3 linked regions of the Homo sapiens genome follow. The protein of the gene in region 3 purifies or fractionates together with the protein of the main gene of each other region. This does not show direct contact. Each region holds a gene or a part of one and is shown on either strand. Other genes may lie near its edges. The genes, in order: SLC9A7, TSPAN5 and MRC2.

Evidence for each region.
Region 1: the proteins of MRC2 (region 3) and SLC9A7 fractionate together in Homo sapiens (co-fractionation; one large-scale study listed by BioGRID). This does not show direct contact.
Region 2: the proteins of MRC2 (region 3) and TSPAN5 purify together in Homo sapiens (co-immunoprecipitation; one large-scale study listed by IntAct). This does not show direct contact.

The regions. Positions count from the first base shown.
Region 1 is NC_000023.11:46,682,496-46,686,147, reverse strand, and holds part of SLC9A7 (sodium/hydrogen exchanger 7), read left to right. Parts: intron 1-3,612; coding exon 3,613-3,652. UniProt on the Homo sapiens protein: Golgi Na(+), K(+)/(H+) antiporter. Mediates the electoneutral influx of Na(+) or K(+) in exchange for H(+). May contribute to the regulation of Golgi apparatus volume and pH.
Region 2 is NC_000004.12:98,480,585-98,484,236, forward strand, and holds part of TSPAN5 (tetraspanin-5), read right to left. Parts: intron 1,592-3,652; coding exon 1,421-1,591; intron 1-1,420. UniProt on the Homo sapiens protein: Part of TspanC8 subgroup, composed of 6 members that interact with the transmembrane metalloprotease ADAM10.
Region 3 is NC_000017.11:62,634,152-62,637,803, forward strand, and holds part of MRC2 (C-type mannose receptor 2 precursor), read left to right. Parts: intron 1-3,652. UniProt on the Homo sapiens protein: May play a role as endocytotic lectin receptor displaying calcium-dependent lectin activity. Internalizes glycosylated ligands from the extracellular space for release in an endosomal compartment via clathrin-mediated endocytosis.

The sequences.
Region 1 (3,652 bases), on a different chromosome or scaffold from region 3:
CTTTAAAAAGCAATATTCGTCATCTGGTGATGATTGTAAATATGATAGTGATGATTACTGGAAGAGAGTTGAAGAATGTTTCCTCTAATTGAGGAATTTGTCTACAAATATAAACCCTCTCTTGTTAGAGTAGTATTCATGAGGACCTTTGCTAGTATGCTTCAGTCTTTCCATTAGCTCTGCTAATAATGAGGTTAGAAAAGTCAAGAAACAATGAGTTACATGAAGCAGGTTCTGATTTTTAGGAGAAAGATAGTCTGTAAATGACTTGTTTTGGCTTCCTGATGACAATTTAAGTTAAATCATGTTCCAAATAGCTGCCTCCAGATGCTGCAGATCATCCTGTATTATGATGAGTGTTGAAGGGCTAGAGTCGTCTTTGCCATGTAAAACTTCGTCAGAAAATAACTGTCTAACCAGGGAGTGAAATAAGACTAAAAAGCATCACAGAGTTCCATCTAGAGTGGAGAGAGAGCCCCCCAGAGCCCTGAACAGCTCCACTGCCACCAATCTCATTACCATCACACCTGCAAAGGGGCCACTGCTGCCACAGCTGGCCCCAGTCACCATTACTGTGACCGCAAACATGAGCAGTGAGGCTGAGACACTTGGCATGACACCATGGGCAGAGGCAGAGGGAGTGGCAGCCTGCAAACAGGACAAGAAGGTTATCCCAGTGAAAGTTTGGGAACAGTAAGATGGTTCAGTGTAAGAAATATATATGGTTTCGTCCACAGGAATGACACTGGGTGAGATGTATTTGTATGCCAGATTGTCATAAAGAAGAATAACCCCCAGGAAACACCCTGGCAGTACAGGGGATGGAGAAGCTGTGGAGTTCGATGTTGAAGGAGAAAACGGTACACAGGCAGCAAAGATTGCAGGCCCTGGTGGAGTTCCAGTGCCAGGCAGTACAGATGCAGTAGACTGAAGCCATTATAGATGTTATCTGCATCATGGGGGTCTTCCACACGGTCACCAGCACAATTACCAGAACAATGAGAGTGGGGAAAAGAAGGATTGGAGAGTTCCCTTAAACGTCAGGCCTTACAGCACACAGAAGATGCCTCCTCCCTTGCAGAGACCCTATGATTCTTGACCAGAGTGTTCTAACCCTCCTGTGCAGAGACAAGTGATGGAGGGTGGTGACAACCAGGGTGAAGGAGAAGAGGTAGGTCAGTGAGACAGATTACGTATTGGGGTTACAGACCACGAATCTCCAGGGCCCCTCCTCACCTAGAACAGTAATGAACACCCAAGGCCAGCAGCCATGTCATTGTAGGCACCCCCCAACTTCAGTTACCAGCACAGACACCCAGAAAACCCTGAACCACAAGATGGCAAAGAGACTGACAGCTAGGAAGTCCGTTGCCAAGGCTGAGCAGAGCAGGACAGAGTAAATGCCAGCCAACCATTTCTAGTGTCATCTGGTTTGTCATCCTACAGGAATAAATGAATATAAATTCCAGCAATAAGACCTGAACAAAAGATTGGTTCTGAAGACCTTAAGTGACTGCTTTTGGCCCATTTACCAGACAGCTAGCACTATCTGAGTTATGGAGCTTTCATTACTTTTCCCTACAGACATCTCTTTTTGGTAATGATAAATATGTTTTTTTAAATATGTTTTTTAAAAGGTCTGGGGCCAGGCATGGTGGCTCACGCCTGTAATCCCAGCACTTTGGGAGGCCGAGGTGGGTGGATCACCAGAGGTCAATAGTTCGAGACCAGCCTAGCCAACATGGTGAAACCCCGTCTCTACTAAAAATACAAAAATTAGCTGGGTGTGATAGCGCATGCCTGTAGTCCCAGCTACTCGGGAGGCTGAGGCAGGAGAATTGCTTGAACCTGGGAGGCGGAGGTTGCAGCAAGCCGAGATTGCACCACTGCACTCCAGCCTGGGTGACAAAGTGAGACTCTGTCTCAAAAAACAAATAAAATAAAATAAAAGGTCTGGTTTTTCTTATATGCCTTTAAAGGTTTTCAAATTGTTTCGTATCTGGTCAGATTGAGATTATTAAGAAACTCATTTTTAAGTTGTAAAAAAAATCAAGTTGTTTTATTACAAGTCAACAAACTGCAAGTATCTGTTAATATGGGTCTATAATAATTATAATAACACAACACAGATGCAGATTTTGGCTCAAAGAACTATATTTTTCTAGATTTTATATTTTATTTGCTATTCAACAATGTCTTGTGAGTTCTTATATATCTTGGTGATAAGAGACATTATAGAACATTACACATGGAAGACAGTAAACATCGTTCTTTTTCTCAGCAACTTTCTCCATTAATGGCAAAATGAGATGAGGAAGCAAATATATCATTCTGTCTTTTAATATTGCCAGCAAAGAACTGAATTTAGAGAGAAGTCTGAAATTTTCCTTCTAGAGAATTATAGAAAGTGTCTGATAGTGATTTATGGCTGGTTTTTTGTTTTTGTTTTTTAATCTTTCACTCACTTTTACTTGGGCATGTCTGACTCGTGTTCAGGTCCAGGGAGCCACACTCCTTCCTTATTCACAGAATTGAATGCTTATACATGATCTTGCTGTTTTTATTTTTCCTAATGGGAGAGCCCTACTAAGAAGGGTATGAGACTTACATACTTGTAGCTGATGATCTTAGCCATCTCATAGCTACAGCCCCAAGAAGCCAGCTCTCCAGCCCCTGAATCCTGACTCCTCAAATGTACACTGCAGTGTTTCACTTCCCAAGGGGTGTAATTACCTTCTCCATGATACCAGTGTTTCAAATGACCTAAGCAAAAGAATTTCTTTTTTCTCCCCTTTCCTCTGATGTGTGGCAAAGCAAGTTACATTTATAGCAACTGGAAATTCCAGTGGGCTGGTCCTTGCTGGCACATGGCAACAGGACTGGCTTGAGGGATGCTGCTGAGTGAAATGAAAGAGCTCAGCAGTTCTGCTTTGTGCTGTCCTGGCCAGAAAAATCTTTGCTGCTTGTCATCCCATCTTCCTCCACTAGAAGCCTGAGAAATGAGACATGCTCAGGTGTTAAAAGTGGTCACAGGGCTGGCTGGATGTGGTGGCTCACACCTGTAATCCCAGCACTTTGGGAAGCTGAAGCCAGCAGATCACTTGAGGTCAGGAGTTCGAGACCAGCCTGGCCAACATAGTGAAACCTTGTCTCTACTAAAAATACAAAAAAAAAAAAAAAAAAAAAATTAGCCGGGTGTAGTGGTGGGTGCCTGTAGTCCCAGCTACTTGGGAGGCTGAGGCAGGAGAATTGCTTGAACCTGGGAAGCGGAGGTTGCAGTGAGCCCAGATCACGCCACTGCACTCCAGCCTGGGTGAGAGAGCGAGACTCCACTCAAAAAACAAAAAAGTGCTCACAGTGTCATAATACCACTGAAGGTACTGTCCCACCTTGTCCTCCTGGTGGCCGAGCAACTTAAATCGGACCAGAATAGATGGATGCTTAACCCTTTCAATCCTGAAGGCCCATGCAGTTTCTCCTAAAATACATACCCCATGCCCAGTTTCTAAGATTACTGCTGCATTTCTTAGTTGTTGAAAGTCAACTATGCCATTATTTCCACACTTTCTCTATCCTTCCTCAGGCCTGATGAGTTTTTTTCCACTCTTTCAGGGCTCATCGTTGGGGTGATCCTGAGGTATGGTACCCCTGC
Region 2 (3,652 bases), on a different chromosome or scaffold from region 3:
CATTACATTCCATGATGCAAAAAGAAAATCACATGAAACTGTAGTATTTCCGTTTAAAGCACACAGCATCCCAAGACAACATGGTCCTTCCAGGGCTTGGGTCATGCATTTCGAGGTGTGTCCACAAAGCTCCATCAATGTGTCATGCAAACTAGTCAGGAATAATGCCAGGAAAGGGATTATTAGGGAGCCTGCACCCATTAGGACCTAATAAAACAGTGAAGTCGGCTGAGGACATGAATCAGGGCTTAATTTCCCACTTAAGGGGCAGCTTACTCCAGGACGAAATGTTGCTGCCACTGAACAAAACCACATAACCCTGCTCAGTCCTGAGTGCCTAAGGAAGGGGATGGCCTCCCTCATAAAGAGTGTCAACATGGCTGCTGCCTCCCTTCATCACAGGCAGACAACTATCCAACCCCAAGAAGGCTACCGTTCACTGGGCTTCTGCTTGCCCTCCGGTCCTGCCATATACATGAATGCCACAGACACCGCTGTCCAAGTCCAAGCTCAGCCTACCCGACTTTTCAGTGCAGGTATATAAAGACCTGCAAGTTTGTAGGACCCTAACACCTTAGCCTAATATAAAAACATGTATGTCTCATTAGTGTCATAATATCCCTGTGAGTTAGACAGTAGCTAGTATTATTTCCATTTTGCTATTGGGGAAATAGGTCAAGGTCCTGTGAGCCCAGGGTCCCTTATCAGATTTTGGCACTAGACCTGTGTCTTTTGGTCCCTTGCATTCTGAGTGAAACGGGACATCTGCTGCTTTGCTGGCACTGAAAGAGCCATTTCACAGGCATGCTCAGAGACGGGAGGGAGTGGCCTGGACTCCAATGCTCAGGGATAGGAGAGAGTGGCCCGGATTCCACTGCACAGATTCTTCACTTGTTAGAAGCCACTAGGACTTAGGAGTTTCTAAGCTTTTGCTTTTAACTGCATGTGCAATAATAATATTTGGATAGGCACATTTTAGGAACTTTGTGGCAAATTATTCTGTTGATAAGTAGATTATTATGAGCTGTGAAATATCAAGGATTACCAAAAAAGGGGGCAAGGGATAAGAAAGAATCCATATTTAATAACCAAAGAAAACTTTAAACCCGGAGCAAAACAATGTTCCTCAAATGCAAATAGGAAAGGACAGCCATGATTATAACGTTTTGCTCAAGCATTTTCTTCTTTGTTCCTCTAACTTAACAGAAGTTGAAACAAGTGAAAATAGGAAATTTCCATTTAGAATACAAATCCTGTAAGTCACAGAGCAAGTCGGAAAATAATAAACAAACAAACAAACACCCATGCAGAATAGTCAGGTAGTTTCCAGCTGGCAGATGCAGAAACCAGGAGGGATGAAATTCACTGGGGTCATCGTTCAGAGAACTTTCAACTTGAAAACAAACCACTTTAAACTTACATATTCCTGGGTGAAGTCTATGAGGTTTTGCAAATCAATGTCATCCCGATATGCTCTGATGTTGTTGTTTATAAAGAAATACAGCTGGTCTTTGATCCAGTCTTTGAAAACAAATGCTAGAACTCCGGCAGTGAGCTCCAGGAAGAAAATAATTCCCAGGAACACAGAAAACTAAGATAAAAGACACATACACAGAGAACAGTTATAAGGGCTATTTTGATCATATATAGCTAAATGGTTCCTCTCTAAACAGGTTTGTAATTACATTGGATTGTTACACATCTCCAAAGCAGATAATCTTCAGTTTCTGCTGATTCATTAATAGAATATTACACTCCAAGAAAGGACTTTTAAAAATCATTTTATAATCACATTTTAGGGTCTCTAGTGTTCCATTTGATAATTAACCAACAAAGCCCATAAGCAAACATGGATAATAAGGATTTCTCATTAGACCCACATTAAGGCCTAATTAATTTCTCATGATTAATGTACTGCCAGATGCTTGTAACAATGACCTGCCCCTATCTCTAGTAAGCTTCTGTAACTTGAAAGATAGATTATTCCAATATTTTAAGATCGCCTGTCACTTGTTACTGTGGCCTTGATTCTCTATGCAATATATTCCTTTTATGGATTCAGACACCATTTTAATTCTCTTTTGCACCTGCTATACAGGGTAAAATAACAGATGTGTTCATCTTAGATGAAGGGGTCAAAGAGGAAGTAGTGGGGTGGGCAGTGACCGCGAAATGAAAGTTATTTCCCATCATAAAAACAAAATGAAACCCCTGAGTTGAGGGCTTTCCTGGGAATGCTAGCTGTGCTTGCCTTCCTCTAGGAAGCATGGGCCCCAGCAACATTTTAAGTGACATCAAAATGCAGCCAAGGGGAGACTTCCGCTTAATGTAGACAACAGGGGTTTTAAAAGAGGGGCTCAAGACCATGAGGCAACGTGGTAACTGCCCGTAACTCTGGAGAAATTCCCCTTCCATCTAGAAGACTCAGAAGAGTCTCAGCTTAGTCATATCGACTTACTGCTCACGCCCACTGTTTTTTCCACCTCCTACCATCCTGTATTCTTAACCTTCTCAAACTTTGTTGTTAAAATAGATTATGAGAAATGAGCTGTGAAGGACCAGAGGGTACAGTGCGGGTAAATTTCTGGTGACAACAGCAGAGAGGGTGACATGGGCCACAACTGCTGGGCAGAGGTCCTGAAGGCCACATGCAGAAGAACAGTGAGCAGCTGAGGAGGCAGGGGGTGCTCAGGTGGTCTGCGGTTCTATCTTCAGCAAGCAGACAAGGAGCTGCCAGCCAAGAGAAAAATGTATTGGGGAGGGGTGCAAAGGAAACAGCAGTTACTCATTAAAAGAACAAAAGACAAACAATGTTTATTCATTCAGCAAACATCTACTGAATGACCCACAATGAGTCAGGCCCTGAGGTAGGTGGGCTTTGCAGAAACAAGGATGAGTAAGAACAAGGGGTATCCTTGCCTTCGAAGATGTCCCAGTCTTATGTGATTAGGGAGGCTAGGCAGGGAGTGGGTATCTGCAGACATTAGATGTCTGTAGATCTGGCAGTATTTGTCTAGGGTGCCAAGTACTGCTCTGTGAGGGTGGGCACGGGAGGAGGAGTGGAAGGTGGAAATAAGTGTTTGGCAAAGTTTTTGGACTCCCAGGTTAAGGCCCCAATTCTAGACCCTCCAGCTCAGCCCTTCAGGTTTCCCTAGAGTTCCTGATTATATATCCTTCAGGAATTCGCCAGAAATGGAATTTAAACAGTTCTTAATTATCATCAGTGATGCCAATAATTTCAATTTAAACTTTCCCCAATCTAGAAAAATGAACAGAAAAAATATCACACCACTTCTGCTCAATGCCTACCCTACAGTGTAAATAACGCCCTGCCCTGTATTAGGCCCCACCTTAAGCATGTAAATATGAATTATGAATTATCACAGTACAGAAATGACAAAATTATAGCTAGCATGCATGAGCATACACAGGAAACACCAAGTCAGGGAAAGATTTTAATTCAGTTTTTGTTCTCACCTCCATAAAAGTTAAGTGCATTTTCCAGTTCCCCTGGTAAATTTTCTCTTCATGTTACATATTATACATACCAAAAATTGAGTCCAAATTCAATTCATATAAAATATTTGGCAGATACCTACATGCCCCAAGCCCTGTTGAGCTAATTTCCTCTATTTCCAAAGGTGCAGACACT
Region 3 (3,652 bases):
GAGGGAGTCTTCCCTTTTTAGACCCTATAAGGTAATTTCTTGACGTTGCCATGACATTTGTAAACTGTCGTGGCGCTGATAGGAGTATCTTTTAGCATGCCAATGCGTTATAATTAGTGTATAAAAAAATGGGCAGTGAGAATGACCACAAGTCATTTTTTTTTTTTGAGATGGAGTCTCACTCTGTTGCCCAGGCTGAAGTGCGATGGCGTGGTCTTGGCTCACTGCAACCTCTGCCTCCCAGGTTCAAGCAATTCTCCTGCCTCAGCCTCCCAAGTAGCTGGGACTGTAGGCATGTGCCACTACACGTGGCTAATGTTTGTACTTTTAGTAGAGATGGGATTTTACCATGTTGACCAGGCTGGTCTTGAACTCCTGACCTCATGATCTGCCTGCCTCAGCCTCCCAAAGTGCTGGGATTACAGGCGTGAGCCACCACGCCTAGCCCAGAGATCACTTTTGTCACCTTTTAGTTTTGGTGGGATTTGGGTGGCTTCTATACTGCGTGCTGTTTTTTCAGCAAGGTCTTTGTGACCTGTGTCTTGTGTTGACCTCCGGTGTCATCCTGTGGCTTAGAATGCCTAACCTCTTGGGAACGCAGCCCAGGAGTTCCCAGCCTCGTTTTACCCAGCCCCTTTTAAAGATGGAGTTGCTCTGGTTTGAACACCTCTGATACAACTTTTTTTTTTTTTTTTTTAGGACGGAGTCTCCCTCTGTCACCCAGGCTGGAGTGCAGTGGCACAATCTTGGCTCACCACAACTTCCACCTTCCGAGTTCAGGCGATTCTCTTGCCTCAGCTTCCCAAGTAGCTGGGACTACAGGCACGTGCCACCACGCCCAGCTAATTTTTGTAGTTTTAGTGGAGACGGGGTTTTACCATGTTGGCCAGACGGGTCTTGAACTCCTGACCTCAGGCGATCCACCCGCCTTGGCCTCCCAAAGTGCTGGGATTACAGAAGTGCACCACCATGCCCAGCCCCATTGTTTTTTTTTTAAATTGAAGCAGGTCTGAACCTGTTACTTCATTGCTATTTTTCTCTTTTTTTTTTTTTTTTTTTTTCAGAAATAGCCTCAATCAGAGGCATTACTTCTTCGTGACACTTTGCTAACTACTGTAAGTGCCAAAAAGTAATCATAGTTTTTCTGAAAGTAAAAGAAATACCAAAGAAAAAAAATCCCACCCTCAATGGTCCTACCCCCTAAAGCCCCTCAATTTATCACCATCCTCTTTATCACCTTCCTCTTCATCCTTACACTTCTCTATTTAACCTTCATTTAGGGAAGGATAAGGAGCTTCCTGGGACTCTGGAATAAAACCAAGACAGACTAGGGAACACTGGGATGGTTGGGCATACCTCTCCCCTTTTTGCCTCTAGTTGCCTTTAGCCTACTGTCTGAGGGACTGCCTCCCAAGGGTCATACTGATGAGGCTCCCTAATTACTAAATTAAGTGACCTTTCTTAGGCCTCACCTTGCAGCATGCATGCTGTTCATTGGCCTCAATTGTAAGAATGGGCCAGGCATGGTGGCTCATGCCTGTTACTCCAGTGCGTTTGGAGGCCACGGGAGGAGAGACTGCTTGAGGCCAGGAGTTTGAGACCAGCTGGGGCAACATAACAAGACCCTGTGTCTAGAATTTTTTTTTTTTTTTCTGAGACGGAGTCTCGCTCTGTTGCCCAGGCTGGAGTGCAGTGGCACGATCTCCACTCACTGCAAGCTCTGCCTCCCCGGTTCACGCAATTCTCCTGCCTCAGCCTCCCGAGTAGCTGGGACTACAGGCGCCCGCCACCACGCCCGGCTAATTTTTTGTGTTTTTAGTAGAGACAGGGTTTCACTGTGTTAGCCAGGATGGTCTCAATCTCCTGACCTCGTGATCCACCTGCCTCGGCCTCCCAAAGTGCTAGGATTACAGGCGTGAGCCACCGCGCCCGGCCAATTTTTTTTTTTTTAAATTAGCTGGGCACAGTGGTGCGTGCCTGTAGTCTCAGCTACTCAGGAGGCTGAGGCAGGAGGATTACTTGAGCCCAGGAGTTGGAGGCTGCAGTGAGCTATGATTGCACCACTGCACAACCTGGGCAACAGAGTGAGACCCTGTCGCAAAAAAAAAAAAAAGTAAAAATGCATGCTCAGTGGAAAACATTCAAACCATACACAAGTAAGTGCAAAAAAATGTGAAGTCCACTCCCTTACACTACACTGATTACACACTAGCACAGGCCACAGTCTACCACTGGTAGATTCTGTGGGTAATCTTCCCAACCAAGATTCCCCAATGAAGATTAGTAGTAGTTCATTGGGTAATCTTCTGATTTTTTTTTTTTTTTTTTTTTTTTTGAGACGGAGTCTCGCTCTGTCGCCCAGGCTGGAGTGCAGCGGCGGGATCTCGGCTCACTGCAAGCTCCACCTCCCAGGTTCACGCCATTCTCCCACCTCAGCCTCCCGAGTAGCTGGGATTACAGGCACTCACCACCACGCCTGGCTAATTTTGTTTTTGAATTTTTAGTAGAGACGGGGTTTCACCGTGTTAGCCAGGATGGTCTCAACCTCCTGACCTCGTGATCCGCCCGCCTCAGCCTCCCAAGTGCTGCGATTACAGGCGTGAGTCACAGCACCTGGCCTGTCGTTGTTTTTTAACTAAAGACAGAGTCTCACTATGTTGCCCAGGCCTGGCTTTGAACTTCTGGGCTCATGCGATTCTTCTGCCTTGGCCTCCCAAAGTGCTGGGATTACAGGCACAAACCACTGCACCTGGACCAATGGACACTTTTGAAAACTCTCTTCCCCCGGCCTTTGTGGTGTAATTTACATCCACAGTTTCCTCCCTTAGGGTCTTCCCTTCCACCCTCAGTCCAGAGCTGGCATTGCTGCCAGGTTAGCGCTGCTAAGGGGAAGCTTGAATCGATGTAAACTTTCTGAATTTAGAATTTCTGCTAGGCTCGGTGACTCATGCCTGTAATCCCAGCACTTTGGGAGGCCGAGGCAGGCGGATCACCTGAAGTCAGGAGTTCAAGACCAGCCTGGCCAGGTAAAACCCCCGTCTCTACTAAAAATACAAAAATACAAAATAGTGAAACCCTGTCTCTACTAAAAATACAAAAATCAGCCATGTGTGATGGTGCATGCCTGTAATCCCAGCACTTTGGGAGGCTGAGGCAGGTGGATCACTTGAGGTCAGGGGTTCGAGACTAGTCTGGCCAACATGGTGAAACCCTGTCTCTCCTGAAAATACAAAAATTAGCTGGGCATGGTGGCACATGCCTGTAATCCCAGCAGCTCGGGAGGCTGAGGCAGGAGAATCACTTGAACCCTGGAGGTGGAGGTTGCAGTGAGCTGAGATCACGCCATTGCACTCCAGCCTGGGTAAAAGAGGAAGACTGTGTCTCAAAAAAAAAAAAAAAGAAAAGAAAAAGAAAGAATTCCCGGCCTTCTCAGTGCTTGTGCAGGTCAAGCTGAGCTCCTTACCGTTCCCATAGCTCCCAGTACTGCCCAACCCGGACTCTGCTCAGGCTTTTTTTCCCTGCCAGGAGCACCAGCTTCCCAGGGGGCTGTTTCTGAGTCCCAACTCACACCTGTGACCTTCTGATTACCCTCAGCTGGAAGAAGCCTTTCTCTCCACGGCTGCTCTAGCATTTTACTGCTGTCGTCCCTCAA